Regions from separate parts of the Homo sapiens genome. Here all the other regions are reported to be linked to region 1. Evidence: microRNA targets listed by miRTarBase, many of them from high-throughput screens and not tested one by one. Region 1 holds a microRNA gene; each other region holds the end of a gene's coding sequence.
What was found. Region 1 holds the annotated microRNA hsa-miR-936 (ACAGUAGAGGGAGGAAUCGCAG, at 1,078-1,099, shown strand). A microRNA usually pairs through its seed, bases 2 to 8, with sites in the 3' UTR of a target mRNA and lowers its output. Matches are read on the target gene's strand: a 7mer-m8 pairs with bases 2 to 8, a 7mer-A1 pairs with bases 2 to 7 and ends in A, and an 8mer does both.

Region 1 (3,140 bases):
TCTGGGGATCAGAGAGCTGCAGGTACCTCTGTGGGTTTCTTTCCACTTTGGGAGAGGCCTTGCAGGGCATGGTCCATTCACCTAAGAGCTGCCTGTGAGCTCCCCACTCCCCTGGGGAAGACAGTGTTGAAGTCCTTAGGAGCCTCAAGTGTTCCAGGAATCCCAGGGCTAGTCTCATGGCCAAATCCAGGTTTTTACCCTTTTGTTCACCTGAGGTGCCTGTCAGCCTGGCTGCAGAAACTGACCAAGAATCTCAGAGGTAGCCAGGTGCAGTGATTCACGCCTGTAATCCCTGGGACTCAGGATGATCGCTTGAACTCAGGAGTTGGAGGCTGCAGTGAGCCATGATTACACCACTGCGCTACAGTCTGGGTGACAGAGCAAGAATTCATCTCTCAAAAAAAAACCAAAAAAAAAAAAGACCATGTTGAGGATCAAACCCAAGAAGGGTTTAAGCCTTACCTGTGGAGATGCAGCATGTGTACTCTCGTTCACTTCCCCAGCTGTGAGTGCTGACACTGTGCTAGGCAAATGAGATGCTTTACCTCCCTCAAGGGGAGATAAGACTTGCATGAGGTGACAAGTGTCACGCAAGGTACAGAGTGCTGTGAGGATACAGTCAAAGGAGAGATTTCTTCCAATAGGAAGGACGGAGGAGGGGGCATTTCAAGTGGTCCCAAAAAGTTGGAAAGATTTTAAGCATGACCAGTCTGGAAAATTCCATGCAGGGATGACAGCACGAGCAGGGAAAGACAAAGAAATGGGAAAGAGCAAGATATGGTCCCAGAAGGCCACCATTTTGGAGAGAGGTTACAATAATGCCTAGAGCAGAGGAGACAAGAACATGGAGGACCTTGACTTCTAGGCCCTCAAGTAAACGCGACAAGCATTGAGCATCGAGGCGCTTGAGATGCAATGGGAAGGCACTGAACAATTCTCAACAGGAAAAGAGACAATTGCTGGTTTAGGAGAAGGGGCAGTGGGAGTACCGTATCCAGAGAGTGTGACAGACAGGGCTGTCCCGTGGCTGATGGCTGCGTGGGCTCCTGGGACACAATGTGCTTCAAGGCCACTGGGACAGTAGAGGGAGGAATCGCAGAAATCACTCCAGGAGCAACTGAGAGACCTTGCTTCTACTTTACCAGGTCCTGCTGGCCCAGACGGACACCAAGGCCCAAGAGGTTGGTCACTCATCTGCTGCCCCCAGCCTCACTCCCGTCACAGCCCCTGTTCCAGCATGCAGCCCTCAGTCCCCTTAACCATAGTGCAGAGGAGCATATAGCATGTGGAAGTGTGCAGTGTCCAGTTCTGTTCCCCTTCTCCTTTCCACCTGCCAGCAAGTCAATTAGGAAAACCCTCAGAAACTATCAGTTCAGATGTGATAACCAGTTTAGCTTTCCTAAATGTAAACACTTCCACGTTGGCCATTCTCTCTCTAGGTGAACAAGGTCTTACTGGGATGCCTGGAATCCGTGGCCCACCAGGACCTTCTGGAGACCCAGGAAAGCCAGGTAACAGAGCAGGAAGAGGGAGCCATGGCCCTGCTTAGTGTGTGTGTGCTTTGTGTGTGTGGATGTAGGCATGTGTGTGCGTGTGCATGTGCAGGTGTGCAGGTTGTGGGGGAAGGGGTGTATATGTGCATGGTTGTGTGTGTGCATGCAGGTGTTTACAAATGCACCCATGTGTGCCTTATCCCGTTTTCCTCCAGCAGCTCAGCAGGGAACTGCCATAGTGTTAGGTTGTTTTGCGTGCAGTGGCTGTAGGCCCTGGCACCTCTGGGTAACTAAGTCTGGCAATTCAGAAGAGTGGGATTAACAGCTAAACATAAGGATTTCTAGAAAGGGGCAAGGACACTCTTAAAACTGCAGACTTGAAGGTCACCTCGCTATCTTGCTCCTCTGAGCCCTTCTCCTCTTGTCCTCCTCTCCTGTACTGGGCCCTCACCAACACCCACGAGGCCGAGGAGGAAGCCATTGTTAGAGTCTCCACCGAGAGCAAAGAGCAAACTTCTCAGGGTTGCAGGAAGAACAAATGAAAACCAGCCAAGAAAGCTGTGTGGTCAAGGCGGGTGGGCATTCATCGGGGGCCTCTGAGAGTAGGGGCCTCCTCAGCCTCCTTTGGCGGGTGCCCAGACAGGAGCCATAGAGGGGGAACCTGGGGCAGCATTGGGATCCGTGAGTGTTGAGCATTCCGGATTTGTGGCTCTCCTCAGATTCCAAAAGGGTCTGTGAACCCAGATAGGCTCAGCACCATTGCCTGAGAAAGTGGTGGGTCGCTTCACTGCAAAGCCCGAAGAACTGCTCTCCATCCAGAGCTGAGAGGTCCAAGGATGCTGGCTGCCCCGGCATGAGACGTGTCCTTCTGTACCCACTGACCCCTCCACTGCAGTGTCCACCGGTTTCTGCAGGTGTGGGTGTGGCTACCAGGGATGGCCTCCACCCTTCAACTCTTCCCTCTTGTGTCTGATTTTCTGCAGGTCTCACAGGACCCCAGGGACCTCAGGGTGAGTCGCTGGATCATTCCCACCTGCTGTCTCCCACCTTCTCCTGGGGTAACTGCTTGGGCCAGGGCTTTTCCTGCAGTCACCAGAGTTTCCTCTCCTCCACCAACTCCCTGGCACACACTCCCTTTCACTATGAGTCGTGAGAAGCACCTTAGGAAGGAAAAATAGGCACAGAACAATCTAGAACACCATTCGAGTAGAAATGAGATTAGATTGTGTGTCAATTCTGTCTGCCTGTGCCCTGTTCCCCTCGGGTGCAGGAATCTGAGAGGAACCCCAAGCTCATAGCTGAGCTCCCACTAGCCAGGAGAGCTGTTAGTCCAGAGGCCCAAGTTCCCCCACTGGCATGACAGGGCATGGGCGCTCATCCTTGTTCGGGAAAGCCCAGTTTCTCTGGGACAGCCTCAGTGTTAAAGCCTGTCCTGTAATTGGACCATTGTGCCCCCATATCACTACATTCATCCCCTAATTTCCTGAAAGAAATTAGGCAAAGATTGAAAATGAAATCAGGCAGCAGCCCCCCAGCAGTTGAATTCATAGGGACATGCTTCCAATGCTCTTACAGAGGAGTTCAGTAGTTAAAGGCAAGAGGGTGATGCTGCATTGGACTCAGGAAGCCGAGCCCCTCCCCTGCAGG
Region 2 (3,076 bases), not on the chromosome of region 1:
CCCAGTCACAGAATAGCAGGAGGTGAATTCACATTCTGGCTAGGAAATTTCTGGTATCTCAACCATGATTAGAAATTGTCAAAAACTCCTGAATGAATGCATAGAAACCATAAAACCAAGTAAGCAAAGACATCTGTAAACTAAATTTCTGGTTTAAAAGACTTAATTGGATTTTTTTATTTAGTGCAAATTTTGAAGGAGAAAAGTACATAAGGTTGTGTAGTCTCAAAAGATGAACCCAAGACTTTTGGTAGTTGGATTTGCTCTTTAAAGTTTCTCTAAAATGTCACAAACCTACAGTTACTTAATTGAGGTCTTTTGAAAAAAATATTATTTAATGTATTTGCTCTTGTTTCTTTTTAGGTCAGTCTTGATTCTCGAGTTAGAGAGGTGATCAATAGAAATCTGTTGGATCCCAATCCTCACATGTATGAAGATGCCCAACTTCAGATATATACTTTAATGCACAGAGATTCTTTTCCAAGGTTTTTGAACTCTCAAATTTATAAGTCATTTGTTGAAAGTACTGCTGGCTCTTCTTCTGAATCTTAATGTTCATTTAAAAACAATCATTTTGGAGGGCTGAGATGGGAAATAAAAGTAGTTAAATAACATCAGAAACTGAGTTCCTGGAGAACTACAGTTTAGCATTCCTCAGGCTACTGTGAAAACACAACCGTTATGGTCTTTGTCTCCATTTTTATCAAGGTTTTCCATGGTTAAGTTTGGAGAAAATACCACACAAAACAATGAATTGCCAAATTGTTTGTTTTATTCAAGACTCATTCTACTTGCAAGCAAAGTGTATTTGTAGTCCTATGAACAGTCTCCTCGTGTATCTCCAGAGACTGCATGTGCAAAGTAAAATGCTTCATTTGCCACATAGTTGTTGTAATATTTAATCCAGTAGCATAACTTATATCTGTATTTAAGGACTTTTGTGCAATATGGTCTTAAGAAATAATTGCCAAAAAAATCGGCCATGGTTTGCATTTTTTAACATAATCTAAGACAGAAAAAAAGCAATTTTTACTATGTAACAATGGTATTCAACATTCTATATACTGTGTTTAGTACACTAATTTTGAAGCCAATATTTCTGTACATGAAAAAGAGCTATTTATCTCTGTTTGTTGGAAAATCCTAATGGGGATTCCTCTGGTTGTTCACTGCCAAAACTGTGGCATTTTCATTACAGGAGAGTTTACTATGCTAAAAGCAAAAAACAAAAAAAAAAAAAAAGGGAAGAAGGAAAAAAGCACAAAACAATTTGAAGATATCCTATCTCAATGACAAATCAAAAGAGTGATATTGCTTTTAACTGTAATAGAAGAAAATGAATTTATGTATATATCAGATGTCCAATACTGTAATTAATTTATTAAAGACTGGCTCTCCAGTTTTAAAATGGTTGTGTAAAGTTATGTACTTCAGCAAGAAAAAAATAATAATAAGCTTGATAACTTAGTTTTGGAATATAAAGAAAAGGACTTAATAAAGGAATGCCTACATGTAGCACTGTAAAACATTTTGATGAATAGCATCTGTCCTGTGGCATATTTTCCTTGAAAGTGAAATCCAATGAAAAGCTAAGTTTTTACCAGGAAAAGTTTTATAAGGGTTATGAAGAAAATAATCCTCTACTTCAGACCTTAACTGTTTTCACATAATATCTTAAGGATGACATTTTAAAGATGTTTAAACCAAACTATTAGTTTTCATCCATCATTAAAAGGCAGTACAGTGCTCAAATCTTCCAGCTGCCATATTATTTTTTATAAGTACACTAAATCTTTACGACAAAACACTTGCCTGACATTGTCATGTACTTCTGACCTTCAAGGAAACAATATTCTGTCATGCATAAAAGTGATAATTAAAATAATCAGTGTCATATTTATATCAAAGTGTTACATTTGAATATTAATATCCCCTGAAGACTATTTTTTTAATATTAAACTGAATGAATATAATACTGAGTAACCTAAAATGAAAGTTTTAAAAAGATTTATATCCACTGAGAACACTGGCCTTATATTAAGGATGATATTACAGTTACAGGTTTTCTTTGTCATTTTTTTAACTACCTCTCATTTTTTAATTTATTAAACATATTTTTTAAAAAAACAAGTTTGGGGGTTTCTTTTTAAATTTATTTTACTTGAAAGGTTGGCATCACAAGTTTCTTTTTCCATAAACTTAAAACATTTCAAAAATGGTTTTTTTAAGCAAGTATGATTTTCTAATTTATATAGAATTCAGGAGACATGAATAAAAGGGCTATTATCTATTCCCTATGCAAATATTTTAACTGTTGCAGTGTTTGACAAAATGGGATTTTTTAAAAATTGCAGAGTAGAAAACAAAATATTCTGTTTACACTGGCGTTGCTGACTATCCTACCATATTCAGCACTTTTAAATACGTTATTTATGAAAATGCAGTTAAAATGCAAGATAGAAAATATTTATAATAATCATTTCTTTTAACAAATGCCTGTGTTTTCTGAAAGTGTTAGTGTGTTAAGACATATTTTATTCATGTCATTTAAATACTATTTGAATAAGTTTTCAGTAATATGTTGAAAAAAAGATAGCTATGAAGATGTTTACAAAAAGTCATATTTTTTCCTAAAGAGTAAAGAAAAACCTAAAAGAATCATCACTTCTATTGTGAAGTTCTATTGTTCCTAAATTATTTAATTTTTTTCTTGCTTAGAATTGAGTTTATTATGCTACTATGATATATACACATGTATGGTGTAGTATCATATTTGTTTCTGTGTGTGAGGCTCAACAAATTGGTGCACATGACTAGAAAATATGTAATATACTGTGATACACTGCATGCATCCATCTTTTTAAATGTAGACTTTATATTCTCGTTGTTACTATATATGATGGTGACCTGCTAGTCATAAGTTATCTTTATAAGATACTTTGGACTATTAGATGAATTGTCTGTTTGACAATATCTTTAATATTTTACCAAATGTAAAAGATAAGGGCCGTTATAAAGAGTCCTAATCTCTAACCTGGGCATTTGTAGAACACAGATTTTAAAGTTGGTATATCCT
Region 3 (3,076 bases), not on the chromosome of region 1:
GTTACATCTGTAGCACAAAAATGGCCCTAATTTTTAAAACACTGCTCCAGCATAGCAGGTATCACATGTGAGGTAGCAAAAGCTGGAGATCAAAGTGTGATACCTGGAGACTTATCAGTAAGGGTCAAATGTTTTTTCAGGTTTTGAGAATCATTCTTGGAATTGTTCCAGAAGATATATCGTATAACTCTTCTTAGATGCTAAGATAAGAAGGCAGATATACACTAGCTCATTTTGTGTTATTTTCTAGAGCTTTACTCCAGTCAATTTCTTGGGGGCAGCATTTGTGGAATCAGTGGTTCATCTGAAGGGCTGTGCTGTGGAATTACTATGCATTTGTTTTGTCTTCCAGTGGACCTAAGCGTTATGACTGGACTGGGAAAAACTGGGTGTACTCCCACGACGGCGTGTCCCTCCATGAGCTGCTGGCCGCAGAGCTCACTAAAGCCTTAAAAACCAAACTGGACTTGTCTTCCTTGGCCTATTCCGGAAAAGATGCTTGATGCCCAGCCCCGTTTTAAGGACATTAAAAGCTATCAGGCCAAGACCCCAGCTTCATTATGCAGCTGAGGTCTGTTTTTTGTTGTTGTTGTTGTTTATTTTTTTTATTCCTGCTTTTGAGGACAGTTGGGCTATGTGTCACAGCTCTGTAGAAAGAATGTGTTGCCTCCTACCTTGCCCCCAAGTTCTGATTTTTAATTTCTATGGAAGATTTTTTGGATTGTCGGATTTCCTCCCTCACATGATACCCCTTATCTTTTATAATGTCTTATGCCTATACCTGAATATAACAACCTTTAAAAAAGCAAAATAATAAGAAGGAAAAATTCCAGGAGGGAAAATGAATTGTCTTCACTCTTCATTCTTTGAAGGATTTACTGCAAGAAGTACATGAAGAGCAGCTGGTCAACCTGCTCACTGTTCTATCTCCAAATGAGACACATTAAAGGGTAGCCTACAAATGTTTTCAGGCTTCTTTCAAAGTGTAAGCACTTCTGAGCTCTTTAGCATTGAAGTGTCGAAAGCAACTCACACGGGAAGATCATTTCTTATTTGTGCTCTGTGACTGCCAAGGTGTGGCCTGCACTGGGTTGTCCAGGGAGACCTAGTGCTGTTTCTCCCACATATTCACATACGTGTCTGTGTGTATATATATTTTTTCAATTTAAAGGTTAGTATGGAATCAGCTGCTACAAGAATGCAAAAAATCTTCCAAAGACAAGAAAAGAGGAAAAAAAGCCGTTTTCATGAGCTGAGTGATGTAGCGTAACAAACAAAATCATGGAGCTGAGGAGGTGCCTTGTAAACATGAAGGGGCAGATAAAGGAAGGAGATACTCATGTTGATAAAGAGAGCCCTGGTCCTAGACATAGTTCAGCCACAAAGTAGTTGTCCCTTTGTGGACAAGTTTCCCAAATTCCCTGGACCTCTGCTTCCCCATCTGTTAAATGAGAGAATAGAGTATGGTTGATTCCCAGCATTCAGTGGTCCTGTCAAGCAACCTAACAGGCTAGTTCTAATTCCCTATTGGGTAGATGAGGGGATGACAAAGAACAGTTTTTAAGCTATATAGGAAACATTGTTATTGGTGTTGCCCTATCGTGATTTCAGTTGAATTCATGTGAAAATAATAGCCATCCTTGGCCTGGCGCGGTGGCTCACACCTGTAATCCCAGCACTTTTGGAGGCCAAGGTGGGTGGATCACCTGAGGTCAGGAGTTCAAGACCAGCCTGGCCAACATGATGAAACCCCGTCTCTACTAAAAATACAAAAAATTAGCCGGGCATGATGGCAGGTGCCTGTAATCCCAGCTACTTGGGAGGCTGAAGCGGAAGAATCGCTTGAACCCAGAGGTGGAGGTTGCAGTGAGCCGAGATCGTGCCATTGCACTGTAACCTGGGTGACTGAGCAAAACTCTGTCTCAAAATAATAATAACAATATAATAATAATAATAGCCATCCTTTATTGTACCCTTACTGGGTTAATCGTATTATACCACATTACCTCATTTTAATTTTTACTGACCTGCACTTTATACAAAGCAACAAGCCTCCAGGACATTAAAATTCATGCAAAGTTATGCTCATGTTATATTATTTTCTTACTTAAAGAAGGATTTATTAGTGGCTGGGCATGGTGGCGTGCACCTGTAATCCCAGGTACTCAGGAGGCTGAGACGGGAGAATTGCTTGACCCCAGGCGGAGGAGGTTACAGTGAGTCGAGATCGTACCTGAGCGACAGAGCGAGACTCCGTCTCAAAAAAAAAAAAAAGGAGGGTTTATTAATGAGAAGTTTGTATTAATATGTAGCAAAGGCTTTTCCAATGGGTGAATAAAAACACATTCCATTAAGTCAAGCTGGGAGCAGTGGCATATACCTATAGTCCCAGCTGCACAGGAGGCTGAGACAGGAGGATTGCTTGAAGCCAGGAATTGGAGATCAGCCTGGGCAACACAGCAAGATCCTATCTCTTAAAAAAAGAAAAAAAAACCTATTAATAATAAAACAGTATAAACAAAAGCTAAATAGGTAAAATATTTTTTCTGAAATAAAATTATTTTTTGAGTCTGATGGAAATGTTTAAGTGCAGTAGGCCAGTGCCAGTGAGAAAATAAATAACATCATACATGTTTGTATGTGTTTGCATCTTGCTTCTACTGAAAGTTTCAGTGCACCCCACTTACTTAGAACTCGGTGACATGATGTACTCCTTTATCTGGGACACAGCACAAAAGAGGTATGCAGTGGGGCTGCTCTGACATGAAAGTGGAAGTTAAGGAATCTGGGCTCTTATGGGGTCCTTGTGGGCCAGCCCTTCAGGCCTATTTTACTTTCATTTTACATATAGCTCTAATTGGTTTGATTATCTCGTTCCCAAGGCAGTGGGAGATCCCCATTTAAGGAAAGAAAAGGGGCCTGGCACAGTGGCTCATGCCTGTAATCCCAGCACTTTGGGAGGCTGAGGCAAGTGTATCACCTGAGGTCAGGAGTTCAAGACCAGCCTGGCCAACATGGCAAAATCCCGTCTCTACTAAAAATATTAAAAAATTGGCTGGGCGTGGTGGTTCGTGCC

Region 2: the mRNA of RGS17 is a reported target of hsa-miR-936. The part of its 3' UTR that is shown has no 7-base or 8-base seed match.
Region 3: the mRNA of FXN is a reported target of hsa-miR-936. Seed matches in the 3' UTR shown: 8mer at 2,657-2,664.

What each region holds. Positions count from the first base shown.
Region 1 is chr10:104,046,110-104,049,249 of GRCh38, reverse strand. MIR936 (microRNA 936) reads left to right here and starts at 1,064; the gene lies at 1,064-1,161. COL17A1 (collagen type XVII alpha 1 chain) reads left to right here. Exons shown (of 56, transcript NM_000494.4): 30 at 1,146-1,181; 31 at 1,440-1,511; 32 at 2,477-2,503.
Region 2 is chr6:153,009,050-153,012,125 of GRCh38, reverse strand. RGS17 (regulator of G protein signaling 17) reads left to right here. Exons shown (of 5, transcript NM_012419.5): 5 at 364-3,076. The coding sequence ends at 552. Among named protein-coding and RNA genes, the nearest start is that of MTRF1L, 7.9 kb to the right of the region's middle.
Region 3 is chr9:69,072,260-69,075,335 of GRCh38, forward strand. It overlaps FXN (frataxin), which reads left to right. Exons shown (of 5, transcript NM_000144.5): 5 at 353-3,076. The coding sequence ends at 503. Among named protein-coding and RNA genes, the nearest start is that of FXN, 38 kb to the left of the region's middle.